3 linked regions of the Homo sapiens genome follow. The protein of the gene in region 2 purifies or fractionates together with the protein of the main gene of each other region. This does not show direct contact. Each region holds a gene or a part of one and is shown on either strand. Other genes may lie near its edges. The genes, in order: USP53, ALKBH5 and EPN3.

Region 1 (3,648 bases), on a different chromosome or scaffold from region 2:
AGTGAGCCGAGATTGCGCCACTGCAGTCCGCAGTCCGGCCTGGGCGACAGAGCGAGACTCCGTCTCAAAAAAAAAAAAAAAAAAAATCTGAAAAAAATGATTCAAACATCTCTTCTCATGGGAAGGAAAGGAATGATACATTTTTGCTTCTCTTTTTAAGGATGTGAAAAGCCTGTAATTCATAAGTCAGATAATTTAAAAGAAAATGGATTTGGTGATCAGGCAAAGCAGAGAGAAAATCAGAAATTTCCAACTGATAATATTTCATCATCTAATCGGAGCCACAGTCACACAGGTGTAGGGAAAGGACCAGGTATGTGTTTAAATTGTCATTTTTACATAGTTCCAAGTGAGTGTCCTCCTTTCTTCACTTATCGGAGGATGCTTACCTAGCTTTCCTTGGCTGTGAAAAGATAATAACAAATAGATAACAAAATTCGTCTTTTGATTTATGCATTTCTCTGAGAGCTGTAGTTTTACCTGACCAGTTTGATTCCATGAGTTGTTTGAGTTTCTTCATGCACTCAGACTGTGGTAGGCCTGAGGCAATCTGGACAGTTACCAAATAAAGCAATAATGTGGCATTTCATTCAAGGAGTTAATTATCAGCTTGGAGCAGAAAAACATGAGTTAGTAATTTGGCATAAATGCCAAAATTAAATTTACTGGTAGTGAATGCAACAGCAGTTCAAAGTTACTATTGCTGTAGTTTGTTCTTAACCTCGTTTTTATTCAACTCTGTCTTGTTACTGTTATCCCATAACTAATTTTTACAAGCCAGGTTCTGTAACTTGGGTCCAGAATGAAACCTCACAATACTGTGTACCATTACAGTTTAGAAATACATCTAACTCTTGTGTGGATGTTCAGGATGATTTTGTTAGCAACCTTTAAACATATTAATGAAATAATGTGTAATCATAAAAGTAACTCATTTAATCAAGGGTAGTAAGATTGAGAATTAACAGTTATCCACAAAAAACTAAAATAAAGGCTTTTTAAAAATTCTTAATGAAGCTGTATCTCTTTTCCTTTCACAGATTATTGATACTCTTAGATTCAGACATTTTATGTTTTTCAAAAGACACCTAGTTTTAAGCCCAGAAATAGTATATATGTGTGTAAGAATAGAAGCATTGGAACAAGACAACTTGGGTTCATATTCCTGGTTCTAGACTTACAAACTTTGTGAACTTGGGCAAATTTCTAATTTCTCTCTGCCTCAGTTTCCTTACCCAAAATAGAGACAGTAATTGTACCTCAAAGAAGTAAATGAGTAAGACAACTGGCAAATAGTGACCATTCAGTTACCTTTAGCTCTTATTATTTTAATGGCAGATCTCTTTCTTTTTTTATACTTGTTTTAGGGGCTATACAAGGAGTTTTAAAATACAACATGCATCTCCAGTGTCAAGAAAAATCACATCTAGTTTTTAATCATAAAAATACCATTGTATACTATATATCTACATATCTATGCTCTTTTTAAATATATCTTAACATTTTTATATAGATCAATTTTTATTTTTATTGGGCAATTTGAAAAATGATCTGTATCATAGTAAGAATGATTTCTTTTACAGCTAAGTTAAGTCACATTGATCAAAGGGAAAAGATAAAAGACATTTCCAGAGAATGTGCTCTGAAAGCTATTGAACAGAAAAACTTACTTTCTTCACAAAGGAAAGATTTAGAGAAGGGACAAAGAAAAGATTTAGGACGACATAGAGGTAAGTTAAGATCTTGTACTATTGATTTTAAAAGGAACTTCTAAAAATCTTATTTTAAAACTGAATTTTATAACTTTAATTTCTGTATATGTTAAATAATATATATTAAAAATACATAAATATATAAGTTAAATATATATACCTATATCTAATATAGAAATATATAAATTACATATATTTCTGTATATGTATAAATATATAAATTATATATAATTTATATAGTTTATATATAGAAATTAAATTATATTAAAGTTATTTTTAATAACTTTATTTTGAAGAGGTGAGAGTTCACTCTTGTCCAGCCTAGAGTGCAGTGACACAATCATAGCTCTCTGCAGTCTTGAACTCCTGGGTTCAAGCTCTCCTCACGTCTTAGCCTCCTGAGTAGCTAGGACTACAGGCACATGCCACCACACCTGGCTAAATTTTAAAAAGTTATTTGTAGAGATAGGGTCTTGCCATGTTGCTCAGAGTGGTCTTGAACTGCTGGCCTCAAACGATCCTCTTACCTCAGCCTCCCAAAGTGCTGGGATTACAGGGGTACCCAGACCTATTATATTTTATATATTTATTAATATGAGTTCTTTAATACACCTATACTAAATCTAAATATGCAAAATATCCTGGTTTGTTCTTAATTCTAACCTGGGATACTTGTATATATGTGTTTCGATGTTTTAACTTACTTACAGATATAATTCACTCATGGCACATTCAAGTAATAAGGAAGTTTATAAAATTAAGTGAAGGGACTCCTTTTCTGGCAATCCCTGACCTTCCCCCTCTTTACTTAGTATTTCCATTTCCACATTATAAGCATGTCTCTTTATGGTTCTATGCTTTTTTCTTTATGGACAGAGCATAATTTAACTGATAGTGATAGACTTTACAGGCTGATTTAAGATTTTTGCTTCAGCAACATCTTTTTTCACACATACCTTTATACGTTTTTGCCTAGAGCCATAGCATAAAATTCCTTCAGAGGAATTTCTGGGTCAGGATATGTTTACTTTTAATTTTGACAGATGTGGCTCAGTTGCCCTCTTGAAAGACTGAACTAGTCTGCACTCCCACCAACAATGATTGGATGTCTGTTTGTTCACACTCTCAGCAACAATTGGTTTAACAAACTTTTAAATCTTTACCAATATAAGAAGTGGAAAATATTTTTATGATTTTTGTTATGAGTGAGATAGAGTGCTTATTTTTTTAAAAACTGCCTCAATTATGATCTACCTTAGAGATCATTTTTTGAAGTTTCTTTTACAAATACCCCTCATTAAGCATACACAAGGACTGGAAAATCACTTTTTAATCTCAAAGCAGTATGTGATATGTACTTGTAATTACTATTTACCTAAAACTCTTTAACATTTTATCTCTAACAGGTATTTGCCTTGTGACTACAAGGTGGCTCTGAGGAGTAATTCATGTGTATCTTTAATTTTTTTTTTTAAGATTTGGTTGATGAAGACCTTTCACATTTCCAATCTGGATCACCTCCTGCCCCAAATGGTTTTAAACAACATGGGAATCCACATCTATATCATAGTCAAGGAAAAGGATCATATAAACATGACCGAGTTGTACCTCAGAGTCGAGCTTCTGCACAAATAATAAGTTCAAGTAAATCCCAGATTCTTGCTCCAGGAGAGAAAATAACTGGCAAAGTTAAGAGTGACAATGGCACTGGATATGACACAGACAGCAGCCAAGATTCTAGGGATAGAGGAAACAGCTGTGATAGCAGCAGTAAAAGCCGGAACCGAGGTTGGAAACCTATGAGAGAAACATTAAATGTTGATAGTATTTTTAGTGAAAGTGAAAAAAGACAGCATAGTCCAAGACATAAACCAAATATCAGTAATAAGCCTAAATCTAGCAAGGATCCGAGTTTTAGTAATTGGCCAAAAGAGAA
Region 2 (3,648 bases):
TTCAGGGCCAGGTGCGGTGGCTCATGCCTGTAATCCCAGCACTTTGGGAGGCCAGGGCGGGTGGATCACCTGAGGTCAGGAATTCAAGACAAGAATGGCCAAGATGGTGAAAGCCCGTCTCTACTAAAAATACAAAAATTAGCCGGGCGTGGTGGCAGGCACCTGTAATCCCAGCTACTCGGGAGGCTGAGGCAGAGAATTGCTTGAACCCAGGAGCTAGAGGTTGCAGTGAGCCAAGATTGCGCCACTGCATTCCAGCCTAGGCAACAGAGTGGGACTCTGTTTCCGAAAAAAAAAAAAAAAAAAAAAATTTCAGACACCTCATTTAATTTGCACCTAATCTTCTGAGGAGGGGCTTGCTGTGATCTTTGTTTTGCAGAGGCAGAAACAGGTTCTAAGTGGTAGAATAGTTCAGCTCAACACACATTTCATTTAGTGTCCACTGTGCAGGGATGAGTAAGGCCTTTGAAGAGCTTTGTCTTGAAGGGAAGACACAATTTCCACAAGGCCAGATGGAATAGCAAAGAGGCATGAGAGGGTGTGGTTGAGCAATGTAGGGGGAACCCAGCCTGGGCAGTCAGGGAAAGGCCCCCAAAAGAGGAGATAGACATGTCAGCTCCTTCGAGAGTCACTCTGAGGTATAGGACTAGTGGGTGACATTTGCAACATATACTGGTCAGTGCCTCTGGGGCTGGGGCTGGGGGCTCAGCCCAGAGAGGGAGCAGGCAAGCCAGATGGCATAAGGTTATTTCCTCTTCTCCTTTCCCTGTGAAAACAAAAAAGCAGGAGGTCCTGGAACTTTTCATGCCAGCAGTAGGGCTGGACCCAAGGGCATATTAAGTTGCAAGCTGGCCGACTGAGACTTTCAGACAATTTATTTTGTAGCAAGTAGGTTCCTTAATAGTAAATAATACCCTGTGGTCTCTGCTCGACATTTTGTGAGATTGGCCAGGAGAGCTTCCCTTAATCAGGACTTTGAGCTCATGTTGCCAGAGCAGCCGGATATTCTGAGGAAAGGGTCAGTGGGCTGTGTCATAGCTGCTAGGAAGTTCTAGAAGACCAGTACTAATAAGCCTTCCAGGTTGGGTCAGTGCCAAAGTCATTTTTGTGGGCCTGTGCAGCCCTACCTCCATACTAGTTCTTCCAAGGCCTGGGCTCCGTGGCAGGAACCTGACATGGCTTATTGTTTGTTCTAGAGCCCTTTGGGGGATGGGGTCAGGGAGCATGCGGGCAGTCAAGCTTTGACAAACATCTGGATTTGCTCCAGAACTGCATTAAGAAAAGTGGTTCCTTGTTGGAGATGGGAAGTCAGGGCCCTTGGTTATGCATATAGCCAAGTCAAACAGATTGATAACACTTGTCAATGGCAGGGAAGGTTGCCTGTAGCCAGCACTGCAGATTCAGGACTTAGAAACGTGCCTCTGGGGCCGAGCATGGTGGCTCACACTTGTAATCCCAGCACTTTGGGAGGCCGAGGTGGGTGGATCACGTGTGATCAGGAGATCGAGACCAGCCTGGCCAACATGGGGAAACAGTCTTCACTAAACATACAAAAATTAGCCTGTAGTCCCAGTTACTTGGGGGTCTGAGGCAGGAGAATTGCTTGAACCTGGGACGTGGAGGTTACAGTGAGCCAAGATCATGCCACTGCACTCCAGCCTGGGCAACAGAGTGAGACTCTGTCTTTAAAAAAAAAAAAAAGTGCCTTTGAGACCTTTGACAGCTCTTTGGGAAAGTATTGTGTGTCTATATGGGACAGTCTTGCAGTCTAGACCCCCATTCCCCCAGTGTGGAATGATAAAAGCATGGGATGAGAACTAGAGTTCCTAGCTCTGGAAATGGGGCCCAGGCGGCCCCCACTACTGGCAGATCCCTGCAGGGGGAGCCCAGACCATGTCTCTTTGGCAGATGCTGAATCCAGGGCTCTGGCTTGCCCCAGGATAGTCCAGGGCCCTCTGACTTTTGTCAGAGTGCTTAGTAAAGATTGTAGGGTGTCAGGCACCCTGCATTATCTGACTTAATTCTCGCAATACCCCTGCAGGTAGGCCTCTCACCACCCCTTTCCAGGAGTGTCAACCAAGTAGTCATATAATGCTGTTTTTCTGCCTGGAAGGGAGGAGGCCCCGTTTTTAAAATCTTGTAATCTTAAAAACTTTAATCTTGTAATCTTTAAAACTGTCCCCATTTTTAAAATCTTGTAATATTAGTAGCAGCAAAAGAATAGCTAAATTATAAAGCATAACAAAATGAATACCCAAGAACCTACTGTTCTCCTTATTACAGATGAAGAAACTGTACAGGTTTTTAGGTTCAGCATGTGATTTAACAAAGGTCACAAAGCTAGTAGGAGACAAAGCTCACATTTGAACCCAGGTCTCTTCAACTCACTAACTCCTGTGTGGTACTTCTCACTGTGGGCTGATGGGTATTAATAGGTATTATGAGAGAAGGTTCTTTGGTAAGTGCTCAAAGTCAGTGGGTTCTTTTGCTGTAGTAATTCTCATGTGCTTTAAATATATTAATGCTTTTTGAAACTCTAATCAGTATTTTACAAATTGATTTCACTGTAGACATTCGTCCACTGTCTTTTTCTTTTTTTTTTTTTTTTTTTTTTTGAGACGGAGTCTCACTCTGTCACCCAGGCTGGAGTGCAGTGGCACTATCTCGGCTCACGGCAACCTCCACCTCCCAGGTTCAGCGATTCTCCTGCCTCAGCCTCTGCGATAGCTGGAATTACAGGCACCTGCCATCATGCCTGGCTTATTTTTGTATTTTTGTAGAGACGGGGTTTCACCATGTCGGCCAGACTGGTTACGAACTCCTAACCTCAGGCAACATGCCCACCTTGGCCTCCCAAAGTGCTGGGTGGGATTACAGGCGTGAGCCACCGTGCCTAGCCTGTCTACTGTCTCTTATGGGACTGGTGTTCATGGAGAAAATTTTGAAAAATTCTTGTCTAGGAGCAGCTTGAGGGAGAAGGTGGATCTATAAAATAAAGGTTTGGGCCGGGCGCGGTGGCTCACACCTGTAATCCCAGCACTTTGGGAGGCCGAGGCTGGCGGATCACGAGGTCAGGAGTTCAAGACCATCCTGACCAACATAGTGAAACCCCATCTCTACTGAAAATAACAAAAATTAGACAGGCGTGGTGGGGTGCGCCTGTAGTCCCAGCTACTTGGGAGGCTGAGGCAGGAGAATCGCTTGAACCCGGTAGGCAGAGGTTGCAGTGAGCCGAGATTGTGCCACTGCACTCCAACCTGGGTGACAGAGTGAGACTGTCTCAAAAAAAAAAAAAATTAAATAAAATAAAGGTTTGTTCTATCCCCAGCATGAGCTCAAATCAGATTTCCAAATCAGAGGTGCTTCCTTAAGGCTGAGCCTGAAGCAGTCTGGCTTTTTATCTCTTGTTGGCTCTTGCATCCAGTTATTAGAGCTGAGGTTTGGCCAGCCTGGCCATCTTGAGGGGTCCTTCCCAGGCCTGCAGTGTTTTTAATAGTTAAGTTTGTGTCTGTACAACTAGCCTTTGAGAAGGGAGCTGATCAGCAGCCATGAGAGAAGGGTTTGTGGTACAGGGCCAGGTAGGGAAACTAAGCCATACTTGTCCTACTAGGCTTGTGGCTGAGTTTCTGGGTGTGTAGAACTGCTGCA
Region 3 (4,260 bases), about 32 Mb from region 2:
TCAGCCCCATAAAGAATGTCGAGGAGGCTTTGCGCCTCTGCAGGTGACTCTCGGGCCCAAGCAACCTTCTGGAAAACGGGTTAATAAATAAATCAATAAAGAACCTTCAAGTTTCTACTACTTCCGTGTGCCTCTGTGTCTTGCATGATGGATCTTGGCTAGGTCAGCTCCTGATCCAGGTCCTCCCATGTTCCACCTGCCCTCAGATCCCCTCCTGCCAGCTGCCAGAGCCCTCCTGCAGGAGGACAGACAGACATAGCTGGGGAAGTGATGTGTGGGATGCCAAGCAGAGGAGCAGATTGGTAGCAAGACAAGGAGTCAGGTGACAGGACAGTGTGTCACCTCTGGTAGTCCCTGCCTCTGGCTTCCTTGGCCCACACTTTCAGGGTCGTGCTTCCTGGAGCCAGGTCTTCCCGAAGTGTCATCACCAAGTATGACAAAGTGTGAGATGAGGAGTAGAACTAGACCCATGGGACCTGGCTCCCTGCCATCTCCCCTCTTCAGCTGGGTCCCAGGGCCCCAATTCAGTCCCTGAAGATCATGCTCACCACACCTCTTCAGCTCTAGAGGCCACATCACCTTGTTATTTCGGGGTCTAGTCTGCCTTATCCCCCTCCTCATCTCAAACTATCTGGCCTTGAGCCATCTTTCTGCCTTAAAAACAGCTGCTGATCTTCATGCTACCTCCCTTGCTCAGGGGAACATGAAACAGGCTAGAAATGGCTCTCAGAAAAAAAGGTATTGTCAGCTCAAACTCAGGCCCCTCATTGTCTTCTGTCAGTCATAACCATTTGGGGCTGGGCTCCCTGTGTGAAGAGCACTCCAGGCTCCCAGAGTTTGAAGAACAACTTTGGTTTTTGGGTGGGTGGGCATCCTTAAGTGGGCCTCAGGCATCCTCCAGCTGAGATGCAGGAGGGGGAGGATGGACAGAAGGATCTGACTCCGTGTGGGAAAGGCAGGGAGGGGGCTGTGCTGGAGTCCTGATGCTCTCCTCCCCAAGAAGACGAGAAGACGGGGGCTCCACCAAAGAGCCAGCCCCAGGGAATGTCCCTGCCCTCTCCTTTAATGTCCTCCCGGCCCAGAGGAGGAAGGGGAGGGGTGTGGTGGGGGTGTTGGAGCCCCCCTCCTTTCCTGTTGAAGAGGCAGGGGAAGGGTTAACTCAAAGCAGAGGGGATCAGGTCGCCAGCACTGGCTCCAGATGTGCACTTCCTGGGGGCGGCCAACAGGCAGGCCCCCCACCTCTCAATGCACCACTTGCCTGGCCAGCAGGAAGGGGTTAACCTGCCCTGCACTTCCTCCTGTGTCCTGTTACTGCTGAGGCAGACCTGCCGGGCCAGCTGAGCAACTTTCCTCGGAGTGCTGCCTGGCGCTGGCTAGGAGGCAAACGCACGCGGGAAGAGCTGCTACCCATTCCAGGGACCCTGCCGCTGCCCCTCTGAGGGGTCTGCACCTCCTGGGAGCAGGTGGGTCTCTGGGACGAGGGTCCATGGTGGATGGCTCTGGAGACGCTCCCGAGGCTGTGCCGTCCCGCTGCTGCACAGGTCGGAGGGTCACCGCAGAGGCTACTCGGGCTGGGGCTGGGGCCGAGGGAGCCCGCACTGGAGGTAAGCTTCCTCCCTGGCCCCCTCCCTGGCAGTGGCGGCATGGAAGGCGGGGGTTGGTGGGGAGCAAACAGTGGTTCTGGGGCTTAGTCTCTTTTCCAGGTGCGAGGGAGAAGGCTGAGCTGTAGAGGACCTAAAGGCTTCTTTCCTGCCACCCCTCCCTCCCTGCCGCCCCCAAAAAGGGACTCAGGGCCCCCTCCCCAACCATCCTGGGACTTAGCATCTTTGGTGGCATCTTAGCATCTTTGGTGGCATTCCCCACAGACTCCTTCTGCACATCTCTGCTGTTTCCTCTTCTTCAGCCCCTCATGCACACCTCTAGCCTCAGGGCAGTCCCCCCTCCCCCATCTTCTGTGCTCCCGGGATGCAGCTATTACAGTGGCCAGAAGCTTAGAGTTCAAGCTCACCCCCTGTCCCTTACAGCATCAAGAAGGGCACTGTCATTCCCCACTGCTCAGGCTGGATCTGACTTGGAGGCAGGGGCTGGAGCCCACCTTAGCAGAGGACGGGAAGAGGGTGTGGGCTGGGCTGGTGGGTGCACAGACTTTACGCAAACTCATGCACGTGTGACTGGACAGATCTGGGTTCTCTCCATCTCTCCGAAACCCTTGCTGGGGATGAGCGATCTGCATTTTTCGGTCCTGACTTTTGGGAAACTCTCCAGATCCCCCCATCCTGCAGGCCCTGAGAAGAGCAGCCCCTCCCTACTGCGCAGTTCTCCTTGGGACCCTGTATGCAGGAGAGAGCTGATACTCCGTGCCCCGTGGCCCATCCCACCGCCTGCTGGCCCTGCTCCCATCCCCTCAGCTTCCTCCCTCCTCTGCCCTCTCGTCATCTCTGAATTCTCAGGCCCTGCCCTCTCTGTGCCCTTCCCTCCACCTGACAGGGTCTGGCTCAAGGTCACTGCAGTAATTCCATACCCAGCTGCCCAGGGCTGCTGCTGCTACCGCCACCGCCTTATCGGCCGCTGGGTTTCTGTTACACTCCCTTTTATTTCTGGGCATATCGTGTTCGATAAAACCCTTTGCTTGTAACACTGCTGGCAGCGCTCCCAGCTGCTCCCTCCCGCGTTCCCGCGTTCCTTCCTTTCCTCCTCCCTTCTCTGCGCTTGGGCAGGCTTCTTCCTTTCCTCCTCCCTTCTCTGCGCTTGGGCAGGCTTCTTCCTTTCCTCCTCCCTTCTCTGTGCTTGGGCAGCCTCACCTTGTCCCCTCAAACTCCAGAGAAGGAAAATCAAGGTGCCTCCCCATGTTTCTGGCCCCGCCCTTCCCCCCAGCCCCTGCAGGGGTGTGCAGAGAATGCCCACCTTCTGTGAGAAAGGTCCAGGCAGGGCCGCTGGGCCCACACCGAGAGTCCCCTCCCAGAGGCTGGTGCCCCCACACAGGCCAGGCCGGAGGGCCAGGGCAGCCAGGTCCAGGTAGGGCTCTGGTGCAGTCACAGTGCCCGACTGGTTCTGCTAGTTCCAGCGGCCAGCCGGTAGGGGCGTGTGCTGGGCGGGCTTTGGTGCACATTATTTCCCATCTTGACTCTGCCACCCCCAGCCACGGGTTGGGGAGGTGAAGGCAGGTCTGAGTCACTAGCAAGGGGGAGGGCAGGAGTTAAACAAGTTGTGGCCGTGGCATTCCCACAGAAGGCCCACGACCCGCTGGAAGGAAAGAGATAGCAGACAAAAGGTAGGCTGCGCTGTGGGCCAGGCACTCTCCACCTCGCCCACTCCCACGGTATCTTATTCTCTGGGCCCCCAACAAAACCTGCCAAGGCATGTTTTCAAAGCGTGGGGCTGCTTTGAACTGAGCCCAGCACTGGCGGGGCTGGGGTGGAAGGAGCGTGGAATCGGGTGCGAGAGGACAGTCTCCTTCAGATTCCTGCTTCTGGCAGCCTGGGGACCAGTTGGGGCACGGGCTGGGATGGAGGGTGGAGCCGAAAGGTGTTTGGTGGGTGGGGGACAGTTCACGGGTGAAGTGGAGGCTCTGCAGGCCCAGACAGTGTGTGTGTGCATGCACACACCAGTGCTAGTGTGGGAGGAATGGTGGTGGTCAGGGAATTCCTCTTTTGGTTTCTGAAAGGGCCTTTGGGAGGACCTTGGGCCTGGAGTTGTATTCAGCAGATAGCCTGGACCTGTGGCTACTGGGGGGAATTGGGCTGGCCCAGCTCTTCTCCCTGCTGGGGTACCAGAGGTCCACTATGTGTCCAGCGTTTTGGGGCTTTGGAGAACCCAGACTGTTCCTACTCTCAGGGAGCTTCCATTCTAGCTGAGAAGGTGGGACTGAGACAGTAAAGCAATCCGATGAAATAATGACCAAACTGGGTAACACTGACAATAAGAATTGGATTAGTCTTCTGGAGTCCTGGATGGTAGTCCAGGCTCTGCCACTTACGTGCCATATGATGCAGGCAGGTCCCATCCCCTCTCTGGCCTCAACACTTCCATGTGTACGTGGGGGTGGCATGCAGGAGTGTTGGCAGTGGCCAGAACTCTGAGGGGCAGTCTTCCTCAAACGATACTTGCTCTCTTGCCTTCTGGCCCAGGTCATAGCATTTCTTCTGAGCCGCCCTCCCCTGACTTGCTGGTTCACTCCTCCTTACTCTTCCCTTGTGATCTTGGATCTCAGCTCTGTCACCACCTCCTCTAGGAAGTCTCCCCTGATTTTCCTGGCTTGGG

What was found.
Region 1: the proteins of ALKBH5 (region 2) and USP53 purify together in Homo sapiens (affinity purification with mass spectrometry, with the first as the bait; one large-scale study listed by BioGRID). This does not show direct contact.
Region 3: the proteins of ALKBH5 (region 2) and EPN3 fractionate together in Homo sapiens (co-fractionation; one large-scale study listed by BioGRID). This does not show direct contact.

What each region holds. Positions count from the first base shown.
Region 1 is NC_000004.12:119,268,108-119,271,755, forward strand, and holds part of USP53 (ubiquitin carboxyl-terminal hydrolase 53), read left to right. Parts: intron 1-160; coding exon 161-313; intron 314-1,583; coding exon 1,584-1,730; intron 1,731-3,188; coding exon 3,189-3,648. UniProt on the Homo sapiens protein: Deubiquitinase that mediates 'Lys-63'-linked deubiquitination of tight junction proteins, such as MARVELD2 and LSR, and which is involved in the survival of auditory hair cells and hearing.
Region 2 is NC_000017.11:18,190,263-18,193,910, forward strand, and holds part of ALKBH5 (RNA demethylase ALKBH5), read left to right. Parts: intron 1-3,648.
Region 3 is NC_000017.11:50,531,382-50,535,641, forward strand, and holds the start of EPN3 (epsin-3), read left to right. Parts: upstream 1-1,353; 5' UTR 1,354-1,604; intron 1,605-4,260.